3 separate regions of the Homo sapiens genome follow, and regions 2 and 3 are each linked to region 1. The links come from fine-mapping of genetic effects on gene expression. A gene starts in region 1. Each other region holds a variant in brackets. All regions are shown on one strand. Distances are from middle to middle.

Region 1 (8,172 bases):
CCAGATGAGGCCACGTGTACCTAGGGTGAGCTCCCAGGTACTAACGACCGTCACTGGCTGCAGGCCAAGGTTGTGAGGGCTCCAAAGGGGTGGACCGCCCAGCAAGGCTAAAAACCTGAGCTGGGGGCTCCGAAGGGGTGGACTGCCCAGCAGCTGAAGGCCCAGCAAGGCTAAAAACCTGAGCTGGGGGCTCCGAAGGGGTGGACCGCCCAGCAGCTGAAGGCCCAGCAAGGCTAAAAACCTGAGCTGGGGGCTCCGAAGGGGTGGACCGCCCAGCAGCTGAAGGCCCAGCAAGGCTAAAAACCTGAGCTGGGGGCTCCGAAGGGGTGGACCGCCCAGCAGCTGAAGGCCCAGCAAGGCTAAAAACCTGAGCTGGGGGCTCCGAAGGGGTGGACCGCCCAGCAGCTGAAGGCCCAGCAAGGCTAAAAACCTGAGCTGGGGGCTCCGAAGGGGTGGACCGCCCAGCAGCTGAAGGCCCAGCAAGGCTAAAAACCTGAGCTGGGGGCTCCGAAGGGGTGGACCGCCCAGCAGCTGAAGGCCCAGCAAGGCTAAAAACCTGAGCTGGGGGCTCCGAAGGGGTGGACCGCCCAGCAGCTAACGCCCAGCATGGCTAAAAACCTGAGCCAGGGCAGGAATTGATGGAAAGGTCAATGAGAAAACCGAGGTGGCAACCGACATGGAACGGGTGGCAGGTGCTCACGGAATTATGAGCACACCCGTCTACAGCCCGAGCTGGGAGAGTCACAGGTGGTGGTGCTTCCTCATTTGGTCAAATGAAATAAAGTATTAGTAAACGGTCTCCAGCCAGACCCCACCCCATGCTGGGGCAGGAAGGGGCAGTGGGAAGACAAGCTGGGCAGTCTGGCTTAGTCATCCGTGCCTAGTAAACGCAGGGAATGTGAGTCACCCTCCCCACCCACCGTGATGGCCTAAAAATGGCTGGAGGGTCAGACCCTGGCCAACACTGGTCAAAGCACAGAATGCTGGGCCACCCACATTACCACTGCCACCACGGTCAAGTGGCAGAGTTCACTAAAATGACCTGTGACCCATCCAGAGACAAAGTAAACACGGGCTGGGAACCATCTGAAAAGTCAACAACAAGTCTCAAACCTCTGGACTCGGGGCAAGCTCATTTCCTTAGGTCCTCTTTCAGTTTCTGCTGTGTACTCTGGGAGTCACCTAAATACTATGTCAAGGCTGCAGTTATTCAAATCAATAAGCGTATTTACTGCCTTCCTGATTGGCTTCCAAGTCAAATATTAAAATCTTTCTTGCATCTGGTGAAGACACAGCTATGGTGTAACAGCTATGGTGTAACAGATCAAAGGAACCAAGTATTTGAACATCTAAAGTAAGCTTGGAACATAAGGTTACAACTAAGTGACTCCATGAGTCCCTGAAAATAAGATCTCAGTTGTCTGAGAGTCATCCAACAGAATGTCCTGTGAGGGCAGACACGCTCCTCTGTACTGCCTAACAGCAGGCACCTGAAACGAGGCTAGTGGGACTGAAAAACTGGATTTTAAAATTTAATTTTCAATGAGTTAGCCATACGTCGCTAGTCCCTACCATACCAGCAAGACAGTGCAGCTTCAGACGGTGAAGATGAGAATCTTTTGAACAAAGGATCAATTACCTTCTGGAATGCAAACGGACACTTATGTGCAGCGTATGGAAAATGATCTTTACAGAAATCTTGTTTACATGCATCACATTTTACTGGAAGAAAATCTAAAAAACAAAAAACAGGGAAGTGTTTTAACGACTGGAACAAAATACTTCCAGATAGTACTATCAAAGTGTTTACCTACACTAAGTGTTTTAGGCCTATGAGATGGACAGGTCCTCGAGGGCCACACATGTGAAAACAATCCCAGGGTCAGGCTGTCTTCTAGAGACCCCCTATGGCATCGCAAGTATTCCAGCAGCCCCCTGGATCCACCTGGCCCTGCTAGCCAGCCTGCACTCCTGCACCCAGCCTCTGGTGGATGCTAAGTGTCAAACAGAACCTGCACCAGCACAGTTCCCAATACTGAGGAGCCAGGAAGGCCAAGACACAATTATCAGCTAATTAACAGAACAGCCAGCTTTCCCCCAACAAAATACCATTTTCTATTAAGTCTCTTAAAAGTACTCACCTAGCTGCTTGCAAGTCTTTTCTGAACAATGCTTCCCCAAATCAGGAAACTCCATTATGAGAACAGTGCTCAAAACGCAGATGGCGGAGTTAAGTGTCACCTACAAGAGAATCAGAATAGTTAGGAGGAAAGCTGGACTGCCCTTCAGTCACCAGGATTTACAATGTAATTACAGCTAATGAAAGTCAACAAACGCACTGTGTGGGGAGCATTCCATGGAGTTTTAGTACAAATACCAGGTGTCCGCCATTCGTAGTCAACCCCATTAAGAGACACGGACTCCTTCACAGGCCTTTTAATTCCTAGTCTATGAAGCACTCCTTGAACTCGGGTTTCTATTTAAACTCACACTGAGGGGGCGAGAGCTAATTCACACAGCTGCCAGTGATGATTACGACTTTGGTGAATTTTAAGTCACAATTTTATCCATGGAATATACTTGTTCACATAAACAAAACTCTGTTACTAGGTGCTAAATCACATCAGTTGACTCCATTATCCAGAGAAGATTTAACTCTGTCCCTCGCCTCTCTCTTCAACTCCCTTAGGCATTGAATCTTACTGTGAACTTATTCCTCGATGACATCAACCTGGAGTTGATCAGGGAGAAGCGCAAGCTGTTAAGTCACTATGGAAAACAGGCAGACAGCTGGTGAAACTACCGCACTCGAGAGAGAATCAAGGGGCTCACGAGGTCCCCTCCATGATCTAGTACCCACCAGCCCTCCCGGGGCCTTTTCCTGGGGCTCACGAGGTCCCGTCATCTAGTACTCACCAGCCCCTCCCGGGGCCTTTTCCTGACCTTCCCATCAGCTCTCTCCCCACTCCTGGAGGCCTCCTAGACTGTCGCCTAAGACTGGAACACTCTCGCCCATGGCAAACGTCTAGTTATCCCCTCCCGCCTCAGTTTAAAGCCATTCCCACCCTCCCCAGTTCCCTCTATGTTACACGCCCGCTACTTAAGGTGCCCATTAGTCCTTTCCCAGCCCTCCTTCGCCCACAGCTTCCAACTACAGATCCGCTGCTTTACTATTAGCTCCCGGTGCCCGACACACAGCAGGCGTTCCGAAATTGTTTTGTTCAAGGAATTCACAAGAGTTTGATGTGAATCCCCAAATGATTTTGTTCTGGACGCACAGCACCCGTCCTAGGAAACCAACACCCTACCCTGGCGGGCCGGGCCCGCAGCAAGAAAACACACATCTACGTGGCTGTCACTCGGCTGGCGGGTTAACGACCCCGTGCGACCCGGTACTACGGCCCCGATGGCAGGCCCGGCCCCCAGCAGACAGCCGGACTCCCAGCAGACAGGCCGGACCCCCAGCAGCCAGACCCCGGCAGGCCCGGTCCCCAGCAGACAGCCGGACCCCCAACAGCCAGACCCCGGCAGGCCCGGTCCCCAGCAGACAGGCCGGACCCCCAACAGCCAGACCCCGGCAGGCCCGGTCCCCAGCAGACAGGCCGGACCCCCAGCAGCCAGACCCCGGCAGGCCCGGTCCCCAGCAGACAGGCCGGACCCCCAGCAGCCAGACCCCGGCAGGCCCGGTCCCCAGCAGACAGCCGGACCCCCAACAGCCAGACCCCGGCAGGCCCGGTCCCCAGCAGACAGGCCGGACCCCCAGCAGCCAGACCCCGGCAGGCCCGGTCCCCAGCAGACAGGCCGGACCCCCAGCAGCCTGACCTCCAGCAAGCAGCCGGACTTTCAGCAGCCGCACTCCTAGCAGACAGGCCGAACCCCCGAGCAACCTGACCTCAAGGCAGGCCCGACCCCCGGCAGACCCTGTCTGCGCAATCCCGGCCCCGTACCTGGCTCTCGTCGGGGACCCAGGCAGCTGAGGTGAGCAGCAGATGGAAGAGACGTAAACTCAGGTGTCCTCCTCCGTAGTCGGCTCCGGGTAGCTAAGCAGAAAGAACCTCGACACTGGCACCGAGACGCCGTCGGAGGCACACCCACACCCACACCGGAACGCAACATCTCGCTGCCCGCGGCCTACGGGGATTTATCCGCAGCCCCCGGATCTGAGAGCCGTCTGGGCCTTGGGGTTTCCGGGCGCGCCCCGACAACGTCACCCGCAGACCGGCCAATCCCGCCAGGCCGCGGCCCAGTGGCGCCGGCGCACACCGAAGACGACACCAGCCATCCGGCCAATCCCGCCCCGCCGCGCCCCGCAGGCCCGCCCACTCCTCGCTTCTCCACTTCCCTTCTCGAAGTGTCCGGTCGCTTCTCGCAGGCGGCGCGCTTGCTGGGTCACAGTGAGGCGGCTCCGCGCAGGCGCAGCCGGGCGGGCGAGGAGCGGGGAAGCTGACTCAGGGCTGCGGCCGGGGTCCTGCGGGGTAGGAGCGCGAGGCCGGCCTGAGGGAGGAGGCCTAGCGACCCATCCGGCGCCTCCCGCCCCGGGCACCCGCCCGCGGCCGCGCATCCTGCGGGCCCCAGGAGGCCTCCATCTCAAAACAACGTGTTTTTAGGTAATTTCAAACTTAGGGAAAAGCTTCAAGAATAATACCGAAAATGTCAGTGTCCCCAGCACCTAGATCCCCCAGTTAAATCCTTTTCCATTTCACCGCGCTGCCCCCCGCCCCCTGGACGGTTATGTGGCCGCGTGGGGTTGGCTCTGCCCAGGGCCGCGGTCACTGCACAGAACGCCCTGCACGTAAGGGGCTCCGCCTGGGTAAGACCCCGCCCAGCTGGGCAGGAGGAGGGCGTGGGCCCAGGACATGGAGACCAGCCTGGGCAACATAGCGAGACCCCATCTCTGCAGAAATAAAATATTAGCCGGACGGTGCACGGTGGCTCAGGCCTGTAATCCCGGCACTTTGGGAGGCCGAGGTGGGAGGATGGCCTGAGGTTAGTGTCTCACATGTCTGTGTGAAGAGACCACCAAACAGGCTTTGTGTGAGCAACAAGGCTGTTTATTTCACCCGGGTGCAGCCCGGCTGAGTCGGAAAAGAGAGTCAGCAAAGGGCGATGGGATTATCATTAGTTCTTACAGGTTTTGGGATAGACGGTGGAGTTAGGAGCAATGTTTTGCAGGCAGGTGGTGGATCTCATAAGGTACATTCTCAAGGGTGGGGAGAATTACAAAGAACCTTCTTAAGGGTAGAGGAGATTACAAAGTACATTGATCAGTTAGGATGGGGCAGAAACAAATTACAAGGGTGGAATGTCATCAGTTAAGGCTGTTTTCACTTCTTTTGTGGATCTTCAGTTGCTTCAGGCCATCTGGATGTATACATGCAGGTCACTGGGGATATGATGGCTTAGCTTGGGCTCAGAGGCCTGACAGGAGTTCAAGACCAGCCTGGTGAACATGACGAAACCCTGTCTCTACAAAAATAAGAAATGAACGCAGCATGGTGGCATGCACCTGCAGTCCCAGCCTCTTGGGAGGTGGAGGCATAAGTCAGCTGTGAATGCGCCCTGCACTAGAGCCTGGGCAGCAGAGCAGACCCTTCCTCAAACCCAAAAAGCGTCGTGCCAACCAGACCAGATGGTCGCCTAATCAATAGAGACCATGCCCAATCAGGTAAGGACAGACACAACCAGGCATGCTTTTTCTTGTTTTGTTTTTTGTTTGTTGTTTTGAGATGGAGTTTCACTCTTGTTGCCCAGGCTGGAGTGCAGTGGTGTGATCTCGGCTCACCGGAACCACCACCTCCTGGGTTCAAGCGATTCTCCTGCCTCAGTCTCCCAAGTAGCTGGGATTACAGGCATGCACCACCAGGCCCGGCTAATTTTGTATTTTTAGTAGAGACGGGGGTTTCTCCATATTGGTCAGGCTGGTCTCAAACTCCCAACCTCAGGTGATCTGCCTGCCTCGGCCTCCCAAAGTACTGGCATTACAGGCGTGAGCCACTGCGCCCAGCTTGTTGTTTTTCTTTAGACAGTGTCTTCCTCTGTGGCTCAGGCTGAAGGGCACTGGGATGATCACAGCTCACTGCAGCCTCCACCTCCCAGGCTCAAGCCATCCTTCTTCCTCAGGCTCCTGAGTAGCGGGAGCTACAGGCATGCGCCATCATGCCTGGCTAATTTTTGTATTTTTTGTAGATACGGGGTTTTGCTATGTAGCCCAGGCTGGTCTTGAACTCCTGACCTCAGGTGATCCCTCTGCCTCAGCTTCCCAAAGCGCTGGGATTACAGAACATGAGCCACTGTGCCCGGCTTATTGTACAGTCTTTACTCTCGGTTTTCACCAGAGAACTCAAGGGCTGTGAAAAGAGCAGGACCTCACCAGCTGCACGGCGGTGGTGACTGGCTCCATCTTGCTGTCCCTCCCAATCACACAACATCTCCCCTTGAAGGCTCTGCCCAGGCCCGGACTCCCACCTTTCAAGATGTCTGGATCAGTGCAGGACCTCCTCCTTGGCCACATCGCTCTCCTTGGACTGGTTCGTTAACCCTGTTTTACCCACATTTTCTTTTTTTTTCTTTTTCTTTTTTTTTTTTTTTCTGAGACAGAGTTTCATTCTTGTTGCCCAGGCTGGAGTGCAATGACTCGGTCTCGGCTCATTGCAACCTCCGCCTTGCAGGTTCAAGTGATTCTCCCACCTCAGCCTCCCAAGTAGGATTACAGGTACACACCACCACGCACAGCTAATTGTTTTGTATTTTAGGAAGAGATGGGGTTTCATCATGTTAGCCAGGCTGGTCAGGTGATCCATCCGCCTTGGCCTCCCCAAGTGCTGGGATTACAGGCGTGAGGCACTGTGCCCGGCCTGCCCCCCTTTTCTCTTGATGTAAGTGGACATTTTAATCCATAATCTGTAACATTTATGTATTAAGTTTACTACTATCTTTGGTTTGCAGTGTTGACTCACCTGTGGAGTGGTCTGAGCCTGAATGCCCGGGGCTGTGGCCACCGAGTGAACGGGCTGTGCTAAGGGGAATTGCCACCTTGGGAAACCTGTGTAGTTGCGGCTTTTCTGATTAAGTATCAATAAAAGTCTGACCTTGTGAAAAAAGCAAACGTGAGTGGCCCTGCTTATGTTTCACCTTGCGTTGCTCAGTGATAGTTCTGCAAAGTCGCAGGAAACCTGGAATCATCTAATTATCGTGAGTGTTGGTGAGTAACACCCATAGGCACTGGCTCCCGGGGAAATACAGAGTCAGGTTCCTCCGAGCCGCTGGCCACAGCATTTTTGTTAAGCAGTTCATCGTTAACCTTGTTGTACATGTCTCTCTCTCAAGGTTCCTTATTTAATAATGTCTAGTTGATTCATTAACATGGAATTCATGGCCAGTACCTCTGTCACTCATGCCTGACTGAAGTTGATCAGCACGTCTTTTTCTCCCTTAGGCACATGACAGCCTTCTTGCAATCAAGAAACTACGTGTGGCCAGGTACGGTGGCTCACGCATGTAATTCCAGCACTTGGGGAGGCCAAGGCGGGTGGATCACCTGAGGTCAGGAGTTTGAGACCAGCCTGACCAGTATGGTGAAACTCCTTCTCTAGTAAAAATACAGACATTAGCCGGGCATGGTGGTGCACACCTGTAATCCCAGCTACTCGGGAGGCTGCGGCAGGAGAATCTCGGGGGTGGAGGTTGCAGTGAGCTGAGATCGCCCCACTGCACTCCAGCTTGGGCAACAGTGAGACTCCATCTCAAAACAAAACAAAACAAAAAAATTGGCCAGGTGTGGTGGGGGGCGCGGCGCACCTGTAATTCCAGCTGCTCAGGATGTTAAGGCAGAAGAATCGCTTGAACCTGGGAGGTGGAAGTTGCAGTGAGCCTAGATTGTGCCACTACACTCCAGCCTGGTTGACAGAGTGAAGCTCTGTCTCAAAAAAAGAAAAGAAACAATACTAAGTTCTGATTCTCAGACCCCATTCAGTTTTTTTTTGTTGTTGAGACGGAGTCTCGCTCAGTCGCCCAGGCTGGAGTACAGTGGTGCGATCTTGGCTCACTGCAACTTCTGCCTCCTGGGTTCAAGCGATGCTCCTGCCTCAGCCTCCTGCAGATTTTACAGACAGTATCAACAATGTCTCTTTTCCTTTCCGCTCCAGGATCTCATCCACTATCACAGTTTCAGCT
Region 2 (8,172 bases), 80 kb before region 1:
CGGACTGGGCACCGTGTAAAGAGGCCCGAGAGGGTTCCCCTAACACAGGCAAGCGTCATGCACAGGGCACAAGCACCGGGGAGGGATGTAAGAAAGGTCTATGCTTTCAGTTTCCAACAGGGCTGGCCCTGGGAAAAGCCGCAGAGGGAAGCTGGCTCTGAATTAATGTCCAAGATCTTTTCCTCCACTTGGCAGGGCTCTCTCCCTTCAGGGACCGGTGGCCTTGGCCAGGACTCTTCCCAGCCCAGCGCCACAGCCTTCTCGGGAAAGCCGGGGGAGGAGAGCATGGGGACTTGCACGCCTTGCCTGGCTGGGGAGAGGACCTGCCTTCTAGCCACACTTCCTGCACAGCCCACGCCCAACCCCTGGGTGACGCTCCTGGCACAGGCTTACGGGGTGGTCAGCGAGGGGCTGGCCCCTGCTCTGCAGCCAAGACTCAGGTTACCCAGTGTCCAGTCCGGAGCTCCTGCTGTTCTGGGTACCCTGCTGTTGCGGGCAGAGGGCCGAGACCCCCGGCCTGGGCCAGATGCCAATGCTGGCTCTTAGCTCGAGACTGTACGACAGGGTCCGAGGAAGGCGCTCTTGGGCTTACAAAGGCCTGAGCACTTTTCCCTGGTATTCTTGGGGGCTTTCAGGTCCTATTTTTATTTATTTTTATTTTTTTGAGATGGAGTCTCTCTCTGTCGCCCAGGCTGGAGTGCAGTGGTGCCATCTAGGCTCACCGCAAGCTCCGCCTCCCGGGTTCACACCATTCTCCTGCCTCAGCCTCCCAAGTAGCTGGGACTACAGGCTTCCACCACCAAGCCTGGCTAATTTTTTGTATTTTTAGCAGAGATGGGGTTTCACCGTGTTAGCCAGGATGGTCTCTATCTCCTGACCTTGTGATCCGCCCGCCTCGGCCTCCCAGAGTGCTGGGATTACAGGCGTGAGCCACTGCACCTGGCCTCAGGTCCTATTTGAAGTTGCTCTGGTCCTCCCAGAGTGCTGGGATTACAGGCGTGAGCCACCGCGCCCGGCCCCAGGTCCTATTTGAAGTTGCTCTGGCAGGGCTGCTTTCTGAACGTGCAAGCCCTCAGGTGCCCCGTGCACAGGCACACACCACCTTTTCCCTCTGCAGTACTAAGCTGGCTGCCTCCTACCAGGGCTAGTTTGAATTTTCCTAGGTCACACGGGCAAGCCAGACGCTGCTTACGTGCATTGAGTGTGGTGTGAGCGGCTTCAGACCAGATTCCTGTCTTCTTTACACAACTCTAGGTTTTCTGTGCCTGTTTTCGGTGAGCACAGAACAACTGAAGGAAGCGCGGGACAGACACAAGGGCGGGCCTCGGTGCCACGGCTGGCCTTGGGCAGAGGGAAATGCTTTGTGTACTTTCTCTGGGAAGCAGCAGCCCCAGCGCGGCCTCGGCGTCCTCTGCCGCCAACTGCTCCGTGACCGCTGGGCGTGTGTGCGGGGACATGGGAGCAACTTCACAGTGGTGGGAAGTTTCTCTCCTAAAACGAAAGCTTCTCTATACTACAGATTGGCCCCATTAAATAAAAGAAAATACGGTGTATTTTTACAGCGTTTGGGATTGGAAATGACTGAGATTCACGGTGGCTCTAGTCCTGTCTCCTGAAGACGGAGCTGGACGAGGTCTGCGGACAGTCAGAAAACACGTCAGGGTTTTGGCTCAGCTGCCAGATATGCAGCTATGGTGGGATTTCTGCGGCAGGGCAAGGAAGTGGAGACAGTTCGCGTGGCAGAGCACAGCGGGTGCCCTATAGTGGGCACGCCTGGAGAGCGTATATTTTCACAGGGCCCGAAACCTGAATGGAGGATTCTTTCCACCAGCTGCGGGGTGGGGGGGGGCTCAGGCACATCAGTTTTCCCACCCAGAAGACGAAGGCCTGCGAAGGGGGCCCCATGAGGCCTGGGAAGGGGGCCCCGTGAGACCTGGGGTTAAATCTTCCACAGCAAGCAGGGACCCCAGCCAGGCTCTGCACAAGGCAGGCGCTGCGCTCAGGTGGGAGTCCTGTGAGATGCTCCTGCACCCCACACTCCCGTGACCACAGGCGAGGCCTAACGCCCCCCACGCCGGTTCATCTCGTCTCCTCAAACTCCCACCAAGATGCTCACGACAGGGCCCAAATGCACTCCCGGGGGGTTGGCTAGTCTGCAGGATCACAGGCTGGCCCAGTGAAAACCTGGGCTTCGCTGCCTTACAACCATGCAGAACTCATAGCCAGGCCATGTGCCCACCTGCCCACTGGGACCCCGGGACAGTGCCTGCTCCAGACAGAGGCTGGGAGCTCTGTGAGGGGCACATGGAGTGAAGCAGAGCCTGCGGCTCACCTGTTTGGCTCTGGCTGGCCAGGTGCCCCCTCAAGCCCCAGCTCAGCCTTCCCCCAAACACTCAGCTCCATCCCCCACCCCAGCGGGTCAGGGCTCCATCAAGACTGCTGGTGAATGGCCGGCTGAGGAGGCAGCGAGGCAGCGGGTCAGGGCTCTGTCAAGACTGCTGGTGAATGGCCGGCTGAGGAGGCAGCGAGGCAGCGGGTCAGGGCTCTGTCAAGACTGCTGGTGAATGGCCGGCTGAGGAGGCAGCGAGGCCTTTGGAGAGGGAGGGCCAGGGTCACAAGACCAGCAGGGCACAAAGGTGGCTACGGGAGGAGCAGGAAGTCAACAGCCGCAAACAAACCTCCCAAGCCACTCGAAGCTGACATCCGCAGGCCACAGGGACACACCTGAGGCTGCGGAGGGGCGGCCACAGACCTTCACAGCCATCCTGGGTCCCCAGGCAGGCAACGCCCGGCTGCTCGTCTGCTGTCCACCTCCCTATGGGGACACCTCAAATCACACGAGAATTGTGACCTCAAAAGCTTATGCTGCTTTTGCACAGAAACAGTGACGTGTGAACCATCCTGGGATGGTATGAAAGACAAGCGCAGGTCTGGAAAAGCAGTTCAGAAGCCACTCAACTGTCTACGCTGGGGAGACGGTTTCGTGAGCTACCACCACAGCCTATAACTACTTATCCATTAAAAATGATAATAAAACCCAGGAAGAGGCCGGGAAAACATTCAATAAACCAGCGTGCTGAGGGAATCTGCACAACCCCCCTCCCTGCCCAATGTAGACGTGTGACGGGAAGTGGCAGGGGCAGCAGCTCCTCTGAGGGGCCCCGTGGCAGGCAGGCCCTGGCGGGGGCTGGGAGGGCTCAGGGGCAGGGGTGACTCCCAGATGCCCTCCAGAGGGTCCAGGGCCCTGCAGGAGCCACCAGCCCTCACCACTGGAGTCCCCGGCCTCCCAGCTCTGGGGAAGCAGCCCTGGAGAAGTGGCGCCCATGCTTTCTAGAACCTCTCTGAAGGGTTGTTTAAGCAGCGAGGGCCCATGCTGCCGTCAAGAACACACAATTCTCAAGGTCCCGGCTTTGGGGAGTTCCCCCAGGCCCCGAACCTGACCTTGGCAGCCCCTCTGCGTGGCTCAGGAACGAGTCCCACAAGCCCCTGGCTCTTGGCCGGAAACCGGCCACCAAAACAGACTGTGAAGGGCCAACCCCTCCTCCCAGGGAATTCCAGGGCTCAGTAGGACCCTTTGCTTTCCCTGGGGTTAGAAGGACAGGTGCTGGCAGAAACGCAAAACAGAGTGGCCACTTTGGCAGCTTTGTATGAAGCTAAATGTGCACACACTGTAAGAACCAGCGATGCCCAATCCTAGCGATCCACCCAAAATAAAATTACGCTCACATGAAACCCTGTATGTGAACATTTAAAGCAGCTTTATAATAGACACAATCTGGAAAGAACTCAAATGTCGCTCCCACGATGGCGGGACACAGA[C/T]CGCGGCACAGCCCCCCGTGCTCAGTGGCGAGCAGCCACGGCCACCTGGTGTGCACGACGTGACACACCATCTCAAGCGCAGGAGGCACGGGGACAGCCAGGCTCGGAGGCTGCACACGCACAGGTGCCACCCGCGTGACGGTCCGGGGAGTCTGATCACGGGAGCAGAGTGCAGCCGCACGGCCGCCAGGTTGGGTGGAGGGAGGGGCTGACCACCCAGGGACGGGCAGAGGAGTCTGGAACAGGACGGTTTGTGCGCTGCCTGCGAGCACCGTGCTTCCACGACTAGATGCCTCTGTGGTGAAAGCCAAAAGGAGTATTTTACTGCACACAAATTCTCAGAAATGATCATCTGAAAACTACAGGTTCTCGGCTAAGGCACCCAGGCTCAGACTGCCGACACATCGTTAAGCAGCTGGGTACCAGCAGCAATGACCTCATCCCTCTGACTCCGTGACCTCGGCTGCAGAGGGTCACGGCGAATTATATACACAGTGCCACGCACATGGGAAGCTCTCAGTGAGAGAGGGTGGGCTGAGAGCCGCTTGGCCTGGGCCCTGCACCTCGTCCCACTCTGCATGAACTGCCTTTGCGGGTAAGGTCGGGGAGAAGGTGCCAGGCTGTCAAGGCCCAGGGTGCAGGGGGCCAGGTGGGAAGAACAGGAAGGCCGGCCGAGCTGGAGCCTGCACGGCCCTGCATTTGTTACTCTGCCTCTTAGACTATGCAGTGGTAGCAGTGGAGGAGGGGGAGCACGCCCCCCACCCGGCAGCCCAGCAAGGCTGCAACCTGCAGCTCCCAAAGGGCTTGGTCCCTCCCCGCGTGCCGTCATCCAGGGCCACCAGGGCCGGGGACGGTGCCGGGCAGTGCCGCTGGGAGACGGGCTTGGTGCCTAGGCCGGGTGGGGGTGAGCTAAGCACACCCAGCCCCGCTCCACCAGACTGACCTTGCCAGGCTGGGATTTGAGAGGGCTTCGGGGATAACTGTGAGGACCCCCTCTCCTAAGACCCCCAAGTCAGGGGGCCATGAAAGGTGGGGGAAGGGGAACCTGTCTGGGACCACTCAGAATTCTTCCCTTTCCTTGTAGAGCCCGAGCCCGGGCAGAAGAACCAGAACAAAACCTAAGTACAAACACGGCGGGCTCGAGCGGGGCTTGGCACGGCGCAGGGGTGGCGGCAAGGGGGCAGCCTGGACTGGAGCCAGAAAGCCTGTGCTGGCATCCGCCACGCGGACGGGGAAGCTGAGACCCAGGGCTCAGGTCACGCTTACGTCGTTTGGTAGCCAGGTACCAGGACCTCATGCCATACACAGCACACAGGCTGTGGAGCTGGAGCCAGTCGAGGAACCTGGAAGCCCCGACCCAGACAAGGCGCAGCCTGGGGGAGGGACAGGGAGGCCTCTCGAACCCATGGCTTTCTTCTGCCCACTGCAGCCTGGGGGAGGGACAGGGAGGCCTCTCGAACCCATGGCTTTCTTCTGCCTGCACAGGGGCCCCTCCTGTCCACGATAAAAGCCCAGTAATAAGGAGAAAGCAGTCAGCAGCCTTCACCTCAGCTCCAGACTCCGTTCTCGGGGCCAAGTTCAGGTGTGTGCCTGTCCCCCCACCCACCAGGTGGCCAGGCCTGGCTATGACCGCACGGGAGAGCAGGGCGGACCCCGCGAACGGGGACAGCACCTGACGGCGACATCCACAAACGCCGCCCCGCAGGAGCACGCACTCCCACACAAAGCGCCTGCAGCTGACAGCCGCCGGGAGGGGACATCTGGACAGCCTCACGCAGCTTTCAGACCTGCAGTCCATGTTAAAAGGATCTTGTTTCCAATTTGCCTTAATTAAACAAACATTCCAAACCACTTCCTCTCAGTCTGACCATTGTTCTTCATTCCATGGTACTCGGAGTCCTGGGAACCACTCATCACTGTCGGGTGCAGGTGGACGTCCCCTCACGGTAAGGTCAGAGTGCTCCCGCCCAGCGCGTGGCTCCGCGGCGCCCTGTGTGCCTGGGGGGTGAGAGAGGGTGGCGGGGGCGAGGTGCTTGTGAGGCACATCACAATGGGGCCCGAGGGCGCTGCGTGCACAGGACTCTACAGCACAGTCTTCATGGGCCGTTGGTCTGAGTTACTCAGAGCAGGGGATGATCCATCCCCACTTAAAGACAAAGTGAATGGGGTTAAACAGGTGCTGTGAGTGGCTGGGACGGGCTCACAGGAGGAGGGGCCAGCATGGGCCACGCACCACACTCTCACCCAAGACCCAAAGCCGGCCAGGCCACCGATGGGCAGAGATGACTGCAGCTTCCAGAATAGTGGGCTTCATGGGGTGGGCATCCCAAAGCATATCACAGCCCCTGGGGGGCAGGGCAGGTGCTGCATGATCCTGGTCCTGTGTCCAGCTCCTGCCACTGCCCCATCTCGTAACCCTCTGGACACAGAGAACGCAGAGAACAGGCAGTGTTCCATGTTCCCACCAAGGGGAAGATCCAGCGCCCGCAGAGAACTAAGGAAGCACCGGGGAGTGTGGTGCTACTGAAGAGAGGATGCGTCATTTGCATTTATCCAAAGAAAGGGTTCACGATGTCTTACGTTCAAACAGATAAAATCAGACTGAGGTGGGGTGGGAGGAGCCTCCCCGAGGCTCCTTGAGGAACTGCCTGGCAGTGACCGAGGTGGGGCTGGGACAATGCCCAGGTGCTGGCCTCTCCTCGGATATTCCGCCATGTGCTCCTGGGGGCGGAGGGTCCCCCAAGGGCAGAGCTCAGCCAGCACCACCCTGCCCACTCTTCTGTAAAGTGCCCCTGGCACGACGCTCCCAGAGAACCCAAGGATGCGCCCAGAATGCTCCCAGCAACCACTGAGGGGGCCCTGCTGGGAGACCCGCAAAACTGCCAATGCCTTGTAGGCCAGCAGCCGCACGCGCCTTCAGTGCTGGAGTCACGCCCAGGGGCTGACGGGCCAGATGGTCTCTGAGTGCAGCAAATTCCGTCTTGTGAGGGAAAGTGATAGAAGATGAGAGTGTGGGCCGGGCGCGGTGGCTCAAGCCTGTAATCCCAGCACTTTGGGAGGGTGAGGCGGGTGGATCACGAGGTCAGGAGATCGAGACCATCCTGGCTAACACAGTAAAACCCCATCTCTACTAAAAAAAAATACAAAAAATTAGCCGGGCCTGGTGGCAGACGCCTGTAGTCCCAGCTACTCGGGAGGCTGAGGCAGGAGAACGGTGTGAACCCGGGAGGTGGAGCTTGCAGTGAGTGGAGTTCGCACCACTGCACTCCAGCCTGGGCGACAGAGCAAGACTCCATCTCAAAAAAAAAACAAAAAAAACAAAAAAAAACACGAGAGTGTGGAGGCGCAGACGACGGGAGCACCTGAGCTTCCGTGCTCAGCATGCTGTGGTCAACTGTGGTCTGCACACACCCACCGTTAACTGGGCCCTCCAGCTGCAGACACCAAACAGGGACAGGACGGCGGCACCGACGCGCCCACGTCCACCAGTGCCAGGCGACACAGCAGAAAACCAGGATGCCCTGCCCCTCACCGCACTGTTTCCGGGCTCGGCAGGCACACACCCTGAATGAAAGGCTCCAACCTGGCGCGGAGCCACGGCCTGCGTGCTTCTGAAGGAACAAGAGAGACGAAGTCACTGTGGGCCGCACCACGTCCTGACAGCAGCTAACCTCCCCAGGCCGGAATGGAACAGATGGAAGACATGGCAAGTCTGTCTGAGGGGAGGTCACAGGATGTCCCTAAAGTCAGGATATGGCACGGAATGCAGAAATTGGAGCAGAGTTCCAACCCCGCCTGCCACTGGTGCGGCAAAACCCGCACACCCCACACACAGCTTCCTTGGGACCTGGGCTCTTTCTATAAAGGGGCTGCTGGTGCATGTCTCCTTAATGCTCCAGGCCTGTGAGGATCGGATGCCCGAGGGTGCTCCTGCATGTCACGCGGAGGCGGGGGACGCCAGCGATGCCCTCCCGGGGGCGTGGGAAGGGGCTCTCGGCCTCCCTTGACTCTCCATCATCAGAGAATGTGTCCGCCTGGCATGTGAGACACGGCGCACTTCTCCGAACCTCGGGCTGTCTTCCAGCATGTGTTAGCTCTAGAATTCCTTCTGCACACAGCTTGATGTCTCCCCTGTAAGGTGGATCCGGCGCGTGGTACTGTGAGCACCTCCAACCAACTGCTCCCTCCCTTGTGCCTATGGGGGAGAAGCGAATGAGCCAGGACTGGGCTAATCTCAGGCAGTGCCGCCCCACCCTTGCCCCTGGTGGACCGCTCCCCTTGAAAAGGAGCAGCAGTTGGTGGGAAGGGAAGCCTCACTCCGCCCAGCAGAGACAAGGGGTGTGTGGGATCTCA
Region 3 (8,172 bases), 62 kb after region 1:
GTCTTGGTGGAAGACCCCGGATGCTGCCTCAAGCTGGGGCCTTTATGTGTGCCATGTACAGGGCAACGAGGTTGCTGCACCCCTCTGACCCCTGGGCACTCAGGGAGGTGGGAGCTTCTCCTGGACTTTGGAACAGCCTGTCCTTCGGGGGAGACAACGAAAGTCTTCTTTCTAGGACAGCTCCCAGCCACCCCCGCACACCACACCAGTCACCTTCTCGTTCACACACCTGAGCTCAGGAAAGCATCGCCCCCAGTTTCTCAGGAAGGTGGCCGCAGGAGCCTCCTGGTGACACAGGTCCTCTTCCCTGTCTCTGTTCTCCTGTGTTTTGTCTGAGGGCTGAGGCATTGACTCATGACCGTTTCCTCCATCTTGAAGTCTGTGGTTCTTCACCATTATACAGAACTCTGTTTGAAAGTCATTTTTTGGGAGGCTGAGGTGGGTGGATTGCTTGAGGTCAGGAGTTTGAGACCAGCCTGGCCAACATAGTGAAAACCTCTACTAAATACAAAATACAAAATACAAAAATATTAAATATTTAGTATTTAGTAGCCCGGCCTGATAATAATAACAAATTTTTTTAATGAAAAAAAATGAGTCACTCTCGTCTTAGTAAGTTTGAGGGTATCTTATTTAGGGGGAAACGAAGCCATAACCAAATGATGCAGAAGTTTCCTAGAGAAGGCAGAGAGAGGTTGGCCCGCCTTTGCCAGTGACCCTGAGCCAAACCTGAAGGTGAACAAGCCAGGTGCCCATTGTCTCCAGCGCACTTTAACAATGCTGATGAAAGCAAAAGAGGCCTTTTCAGCAATGCTGGCAGCCCCGTGAGCAGGGCATGGTTTCGCCGCTCCGTGGGAGTGGCCTGGGCCCCAAGACTCCAGAGACGCTACCATGGGGGAACTCGGTGGGCCTCTTCCAGCAGCCTGCCCTAGCCCGTGTAACCGGGCAGAGGAGGAGAAGCAGGCGGCCCCCGCTCACGCTTCCCACAGGCTATGCTCCCTCTGCTTTGCAGTGGTCCCGAGAATCCGATGGGCCACCCAGCCTCTACTCAGGCCATTGTGACACAGGCCCCCAGCGCTCCTCCTGCCTATTCTGAACGTGGGTTGCACCCCGGGTGCGTTGCAGTGTCAGACTGACCGGCCCAGAGCTGCAATGGCCCAGCGGGAGGTCACGAAGGGGTTCTGAAAATGAGCTGGGTGTGGGGGAGTAGGGGTCAGGAGGGGACCTGGAGTGGCAACCCCTGCACCTGCCATGCAGACGTTCCCCTGCGAGCTGGGCAGCAAGTCTCTCAGACAGAGCACCAAGAAGCTGCATTCCCCCGGTCTCCTGGGCTCACTCCCCTGACCCACTGCTATTAATAGTTGTGTCCAGGGGCCGGGCATGGTGGCCCATGCCTTTAATTCCAGCACTTTGGGAGGCTGAGGTGGGCAGATCGCCTGAGGTCAGGAGTTGGAGAGGAGCCTGGCCGACATGGTGAAACCCCGTCTCTCCTAAAAATACAAAAATTAGCTGGGTGTGGTGGCACATGCCTGTAGTCCCAGCTACTCGGAAGGCTGAGGCAGGAGAATTGCTTGAACCGGGGAAGTAGAGATTGCAGCGAGCTGAGATTGCACCACTGCACTCCAGCCTGGCAACAGAGTGAGACTCCATCTCAAAAAAAAAAAAATTGTGTCTAGGAATGAAAGCTGTTTGCAGCAAGCCAGAGAGAGCAAACAGCTCTCAGGTTCCTGTGTGGGGCCTGGAGACACCCCTGGTGGCTGGGGCAGGCGGGAGAACCGGGAACCTGGGAGACTGAAGGTTTAAACTTCTCTGCCACCTTGGCCCTCACTCACGACGACACCGGTGAGCTCCAGTTCGCACTCATGACCAGTTCTCACACATGACCCTAACTGGGATGTAATTTCTTCTTGCAGACTTGCTGCATATCTCTGTAGACAGATGTCCTATCCCCATCACCCCCGGAACTCACTACCCATGGACTCCTTAACTTGAGGTTACTGTGAACCATCTCAAGTTTCTTGTTTTTCTCCTGGTGGGTGGAATTTGACTGACCTCTGACTCTGTAGGAAGGTCAAAGGCAACAGGAACATTATTCCTTTAGCTATGCCTTTGTTTATGAAATCTTCAGAGCAATTTAGCCACCCTCTGACTGTCACACATCCCTGGGCAGGAACGAGTTGATAAGATGGGAGGGGCCTAAGTCATAATGGAGCAGGGGGGACGTGGGAAGAGCTCCCTTCCGCCCTGCCCCTCACCCCTGCCTCAGTTTGTCTGTGTGTAAGTAGCTGGAAGGGCTCTGCTGAGAATTAATTAACAAATGTCCATTTAATGTTTCTGGGGTAAGTGTCCCTTGGCTACTGAGCAGTGTTAAATAATTGCAACCCTCAAATGACGAGCCATCGTGTCTCTGATCTGGGGGGTGAAAGCGTTGTTACGTGTCTTTTCACAACGACTTTATTTAACGAGAGCTGATCTTTGCAATTTGGTTTATTTTCTCTATCCCTTTTAATTTCAGACTCAGGGGTTATTAGCAGATAACTGCTCATTTCTGCTGTAAATCAAGAAAATACTCATTAGAAGCCCAACGTTGAGATTGTCAGGAGCCGGGGCTTGTAAAGAACTGGGGGGAGGGCAAAATCTAGTGTGAAAATAGGCTAAGTTCAAAAGTATTTTTATTCAGGGAAAACGAAATGGCATTTTCTGAACTGAGCAACCTCTTAAGTTTTTTTTTTTTTTTTTTTTTTTTTTTTCAGACGGAGTTTTGCTCTTGTCACCCAGGCTGCAGTGCAGTGGCGTGATCTCGGCTCACTGCAACCTCCGCCTCCCGGGTTCAAGTGATTCTCCCACCTCAGCCTCCCGAGTAGCTGGGATTATGGGCACGCACCACCATGTCCAGCTAATTTTTGTATTTTTAGTAGAGACGGAGTTTCACCGTGTTGGCCACGCTGGTATCAATCTCTTGACCTCATGATCTGCCCGCCTCAGCCTCCCAAACTGCTGGGATTACAGGCGTGAGCTACCGCACCTTTCTCTTAAGTGTGTTAAACTCCAAATCGAACCTGGTAAGGTAGTAGGAGGACACCAACCCAGCAGATACGGAATTGAGTCCTCAAGACCAGGGAGTGGCGGGGACGAGTAGGCCAAGAGGATCCTCCCCAGGGACCCCTCGGGGGCCGAGCTGGCCACACAGGAGGGGCCGGACTGAGAGGACAGTTGTGACCTTCAGCATGCTGGCAGCCACCCTGCGCCCACAGAATGCAGACACTGCCAGCAGAAGGGGCTGGGGAGATATGAGAACATGTCTGTAGACTCTGAAAAAAACAAGAGTGCTGATGTTTAAACCATATGGCGGGGGCTGAGGACACAGGGACGCAGAGCTCAGCTCCTGGTCCTTCCCCGCCTCCAGTTCCCAGGTAGCATTTCTTCCCTTGTTTCTTTCTCTCGTGTTGATCACAGGAGAAAGTATTTTCAGTCCTCACCCCCCGTTTCCTCATTTTATACTCCTTTCCAGACGGTAGGATCTCTTCTTGCAAAATTATCCTCGCCTAATCCATGGAGACAGAAAGTGGATTAGTGGTTGCCGGGGGCTGGGGGAGGGAGCTGGGGACGGAGAGTGACTGCTAATGGGTGCCAGGTCTCTTTTCGGGGTGATGAAAATGTTCCAGAACTGGATAGGGGTGGTGGTGACGCAGCTCTGGGGATGTATATACAGATGCCGAATTGTATGCTTTAAAAGGATGGATGTGATGGTGCCAGTGATATCTCAATAAAGCTGTTATTTTAAAAATAGGCCTTGGCCGGGCGCAGTGGCTCACACCTGTAATCCCAGCGCTTTGAGAGGCCAAGGTGGGTGGATCACGAGGTCAGGAGATCAAGACCAGCCTGACCAACATGGTGAAACCCCATCTCTACTAAAAATACAAAAAATTAGCCAGGTATGGTGACGCATGCCTGTAATCCCAGCTACTCAGGAGGCTGAGGCAGGAGAATCGCTTGAACCTGGGAGGCGGAGTTTGCAGTGAGCTGAGATCCCGCCACTGCACTCCAGTCTAA[T/C]GACAGAGAGAGACTCCGTCTCACACACACACACACACAAAATCAGCCTTGCCTGTTGTTACAGTCCTATTACAATTGCTGAGACTGCGTGTCTTCAGCCTCTGGGTGGGAACTCACGTGAAGTTACTCCAGTGGTTCTGTGAGTTGCCCTCAAAGCTTTAATTCACCCCTAGCTTTTGCCTGAACACTCGTACAAGTTGGCCAGTATGGAAGACCCCCTGGTGTCCCATCCAGAGTCCACGTGCTAAAAGCTGCATCTGGGGCAGACACAGGCCTTGGATTTCTTTTCTTTTTTTTAGACAGTCTCACTCTGTTGCCCAGGCTGGAGTGCAGTGGTGTGATCTGAGCTTACTGCAACCTCCAACTTCTGGGTTCCAGCGATTCTCCTGCCTCAGCCTCCCGAATAGCTGGGATTACAGGTACCCACTACCATGCCTGGCTAATTTTTGTAGTTTTAATAGAGACAGGGTTTCACCACGTTGGCCAGACTGGTCTTGAACTCCTGACCTCAGGTGATCTGCCCACCTTGGCCTCCCAAAGTGCTGGGATTACAGGCGTGAGCTACTGTGCCTGGCCAGGGCTTGGATTTCTAAGTTGTCAAATGGGTTTATAAAAATCCTGTAGCAGGGCCAGGCGCGGTGGCTCACACCTGTAATCCCAGCACTTTGGGAGGCCGAGGCAGGCAGATCACAAGGTCAGGAGATTGAGACCATCCTGGCTAACACGGTGAAACCCCGTCTCTACTAAAAATACAAAAAATTAGCCGGGTGTGGTGGGCGCCTGTAGTCCCAGCTACTCAGGAGGCTGAGGCAGGAGAATGGTGTGAACCCAGGAGGTGGAGCTTACAGTGAGCCGAGATGGAGATCGCACCACTGCATTCCAGCCTGGGAGACGGGGTGAGACTCCGTCTCAAAAAAAAAAAAAAAAAAAAAAAAAAAAAAAAAAAAAAAACTCCAGTAGCAGAAAAACTGAAATGTGACTTGAGCCCCAGTCAAAGGGAGATAGGGAGACAGTGAAGACCCTGCTCTTTCTGAATCCTTAGAGCCCACCAGACCCTCTAAAAGGAATAATACAAAGACCCTCCTTTCACCAGATCAGCCGCAGGAAATGGCAGAACTCCCAGAATTGGGCCTCTGGTCCAAGGAGCGCAAGGGTGGAGCATGGAGAGGCCCATCAGGCATGGGAGGTCCTGGCAGAGGGGACTGGGAGGTCTGCATCGGCCTTGCTATGCCCTTTCTTGTTCTTGCAACTTCCTAATTTCAAACGTTTAATGAATTTGAAAAACAAGAAGATAACCCAGGCTGAGTTTGACACTGGAACCCCTTCACCCAGCCTGGACACAAGGTGTCCCCATCCTCCCGGGGACCAGCTCGGCGTCTCCTAGGATGGCTCTGCAGAGAGCATTGCAGAGTCATAGGACAGAAAATAAAAACAGGTCAGTGCTGGGTGAAAAAAGTTTTCTCTGAGCTGGACTCCTAGACTACACTGGCTAAGCACCCATGGGCATCTCAGCACCAGCTGGACTAATGTGAGGCCTCCTGCTGAGGTCCCAAGCCCCGCTTCAGAGAACAAGCCCCGCTTCAGAGAAAGGTGACCTTCGGGTGGCCTGTAGGATGACACTCAGGTGACCTCCACCTTCCTCCTGCCACAGCGGTCAGAAGAAGGCAGCCCTGGGAGGACCCCTCCGCCCAGGAGAGGGAAGATGCAGGCCGCACTGCAGAGACAGGCGGCTTGGAGGCTCCCCTCTGCCCCCAGCCCTCTCCAAGGAGCTGCCAGGCGTCAAGCTACTGCACAGGTCCCAGGGAAAGCCTCGACCCCTTCCTCTCCCATGAGCAGTAGTCGAAGAGGCTGCACGGAGGTCCCGGCCTCCGTGAGGGCGGTGGGTTGGAGAGGGCGCCTGGGGCCTCAGGACCCTGCTCCCTCCCGGGATTGTGGGTTTCCTGCCCCAAGGGTTTCGCGGCGTGGGCATGAGCGCTGGCATCTGCGCGCCCTGAGGTTCGGCCGCTGCGTGGCCTTCTCCGGGAGGTGGGGGGAATCCGAAGAGGTCCCACCCCAGGTTCGGTTCCCGGCTTCCTGGTCTTTGTTTACCAGGCTCCGAGGAGGACCTGCCTCTCTCCTCCCGCAGCCCTGGGCCCCCCACTCGACAGTTTCACATCCAGGGAGGGACAAAGGGGGACGCGGCCGGATTAGCTTTCGCAGCGCGCGGTGCGTTCCCGGGGTGCAGCTGCTTCGGGGCCCCTGCCAAGGCTCCGGCTTCTGCAGGCGGGACTCGGGCTCGGGCCACCACCGCGAGCACTTTCCTGGCCAGCTCCGTTCCCGCCCCATCGGGCCGGGCCGGGCCGAGCTGAGCGGGGCGCGGAGACCGCGGCGGACGGTGGGGAGAGCGCGCGCGCGTCCATCCGATTTCAGGCCTTTGTTGCCGGAGCCTCGTGCCGATGGGTTAATGGGGCAGAAGAGATCGGTGAAGGGCGACAGAAGCGGCCTTTGAAAGAGGGTGTCAGCGCGGGGCAGCGAGACAAAGGCCAAAACACACACGGGCGGAGAGGGACAGATGGGGACGGGCGAGGGAAAACAATTAGGCCGCAAGTGCGGGGGCGGGGCGCGGCTCCATCGTTTTCCAGTTAACCAGGCCTGGCCGGCGCGGGCCCCACGCCCCAGGCTGGAGCGGTGCCGAAGCGCAGAGCAGACCGGCTTCTGCTGCGTGCGCGAGTCCTGCACCCCGGCCTGCACCCCGCCCTGACCCCTCCACTCCGTGCAGGGGGTGGGGGCAGAAGGGGGCAGGGGAGAGGGAGGGAGGGATGGATGGATGGATGGATGAGTGAGTGAATGAATGAATGAATGAATGAATGAATCCCCCTGCCCGTAAATAACAGAAGAGCTGCGTCCCGGTGCCGGGGGTTGGAGCGGAAGGAGGGGCAGGGGAGAGGGAGGGAGGGATGGATGGATGAGTGAGTGAGTGAGTGAGTGAGTGAGTGAATGAGTGAATGAATGAATGAATGAATGGATGAATCCCCCTGCCCATAAATAACAGAAGAGCTGCGTCCCGGTGCCCGGGGTTGGAGCGGAAGGAGGGGCAGGGGAGAGGGAGGGGTGGATGGATGGATGAGTGAGTGAGTGAGTGAGTGAATGAATGGATGAATGAATGAATCCCCCTGCCCGTAAATAACAGAAGAGCTGCGTCCCGGTGCCCGGGGTGGGGGCAGAAGGAGGGGCAGGGGAGAGGGAGGGATGGATGAGTGAATGAGTGAATGAATGAATGAATGGATGGATGAATGAATGAATCCCCTTGACAGTAAATTACAGAAGAGCTGCGTCCCGGTGCCTGGAGTGGCGGCAGAAGGAGGGGCAGGGGAGAGGGAGGGAGGGAGGGAGGGATGGATGAGTGAGTGAGTGAATGAGTGAATGAATGGGTGAATGAATGAATGAATCCCCCTGCCCGTAAATAACAAGAGCTGCGTCCTGGCGGCTGACCGTAGCCACCCCGTGTCTCCCTGCGGGATGACCTGAGAGCGTTTCCTGGAAGCCGCGCAGCCCCTCTCCCGGCCTCCACCATCGGGGCCGCTCACCCTCTGGGGACTCTGGCCCCGGGACCCCGGGATCCAGGCCCGGTGCGCGCGGCTCCGGCCCCGAGCGCGCTGTCCAGGCTGGATCCCCACCAGGCGGCGCTGCGCCCCTCCGAGCCCGCCCGGCCGCGCTCTGCAAACCGATGCTGTTTAATTAACGTGCAAATTGAGTAGATTAAATGACTCTAAATAATTAGCCACAGATCCTACAAACAGGATAACAGATTTAATTAAGCAGCGATATAGATTTTGGAAACTGTTAATGTATTTTTAGAATGGCAGCTCAGATCCTTCACTTTTCCCCCCTAACTTCAAACATGTAACTACGGCCCTCCGAACGTGGATAAATATCTGGAAACAAGATTACGCCTGTTAACTTCAACTAATAGAAATGTGGGTTTAACAGGAACTTGCACGGCTCCGGCGCCGGCGCCGCTGCAGCCCGCGTGGCCCGGGCCGGGCCGGTTCTGTTTGGCTTTGTTGTTCTTGGTGCGCGCGGTCTGGCGCCTGGGCCCTGGGCAGAGAGGGTCAGAACATACAGGAGGAAGGGGAAGGG

The links.
Region 2: its variant is fine-mapped to the expression of ZFAND2A in whole blood (INTERVAL, PIP above 0.99).
Region 3: its variant is fine-mapped to the expression of ZFAND2A in monocytes after LPS (Quach 2016, PIP 0.95).

The regions. Positions count from the first base shown.
Region 1 is chr7:1,156,017-1,164,188 of GRCh38, forward strand. It overlaps ZFAND2A (zinc finger AN1-type containing 2A), which reads right to left and starts at 4,180. Exons shown (of 5, transcript NM_182491.4): 1 at 3,948-4,180; 2 at 2,142-2,241; 3 at 1,640-1,734. The coding sequence starts at 2,196. It overlaps ZFAND2A-DT (ZFAND2A divergent transcript), which reads left to right and starts at 4,358. Exons shown (of 3, transcript NR_110069.1): 1 at 4,358-4,607; 2 at 6,336-6,527; 3 at 8,145-8,172. RefSeq lists enhancers at 3,282-3,796, 3,797-4,309, 4,310-4,823, 4,824-5,336 and silencers at 4,119-4,658, 4,669-4,718.
Region 2 is chr7:1,076,510-1,084,681 of GRCh38, forward strand. The region is part of intron 2 of CHLSN (cholesin); the gene reads right to left. It overlaps CHLSN-AS1 (CHLSN antisense RNA 1), which reads left to right. Exons shown (of 3, transcript NR_187853.1): 3 at 1,255-1,553. Among named protein-coding and RNA genes, the nearest start is that of GPER1, 7.5 kb to the right of the region's middle. The variant C/T (reference allele first, on the strand shown) is at 3,820.
Region 3 is chr7:1,217,968-1,226,139 of GRCh38, forward strand. No RefSeq gene overlaps it. Among named protein-coding and RNA genes, the nearest start is that of UNCX, 11 kb to the right of the region's middle. RefSeq lists a silencer at 5,206-5,500 and an enhancer at 7,551-8,172. The variant T/C (reference allele first, on the strand shown) is at 4,054.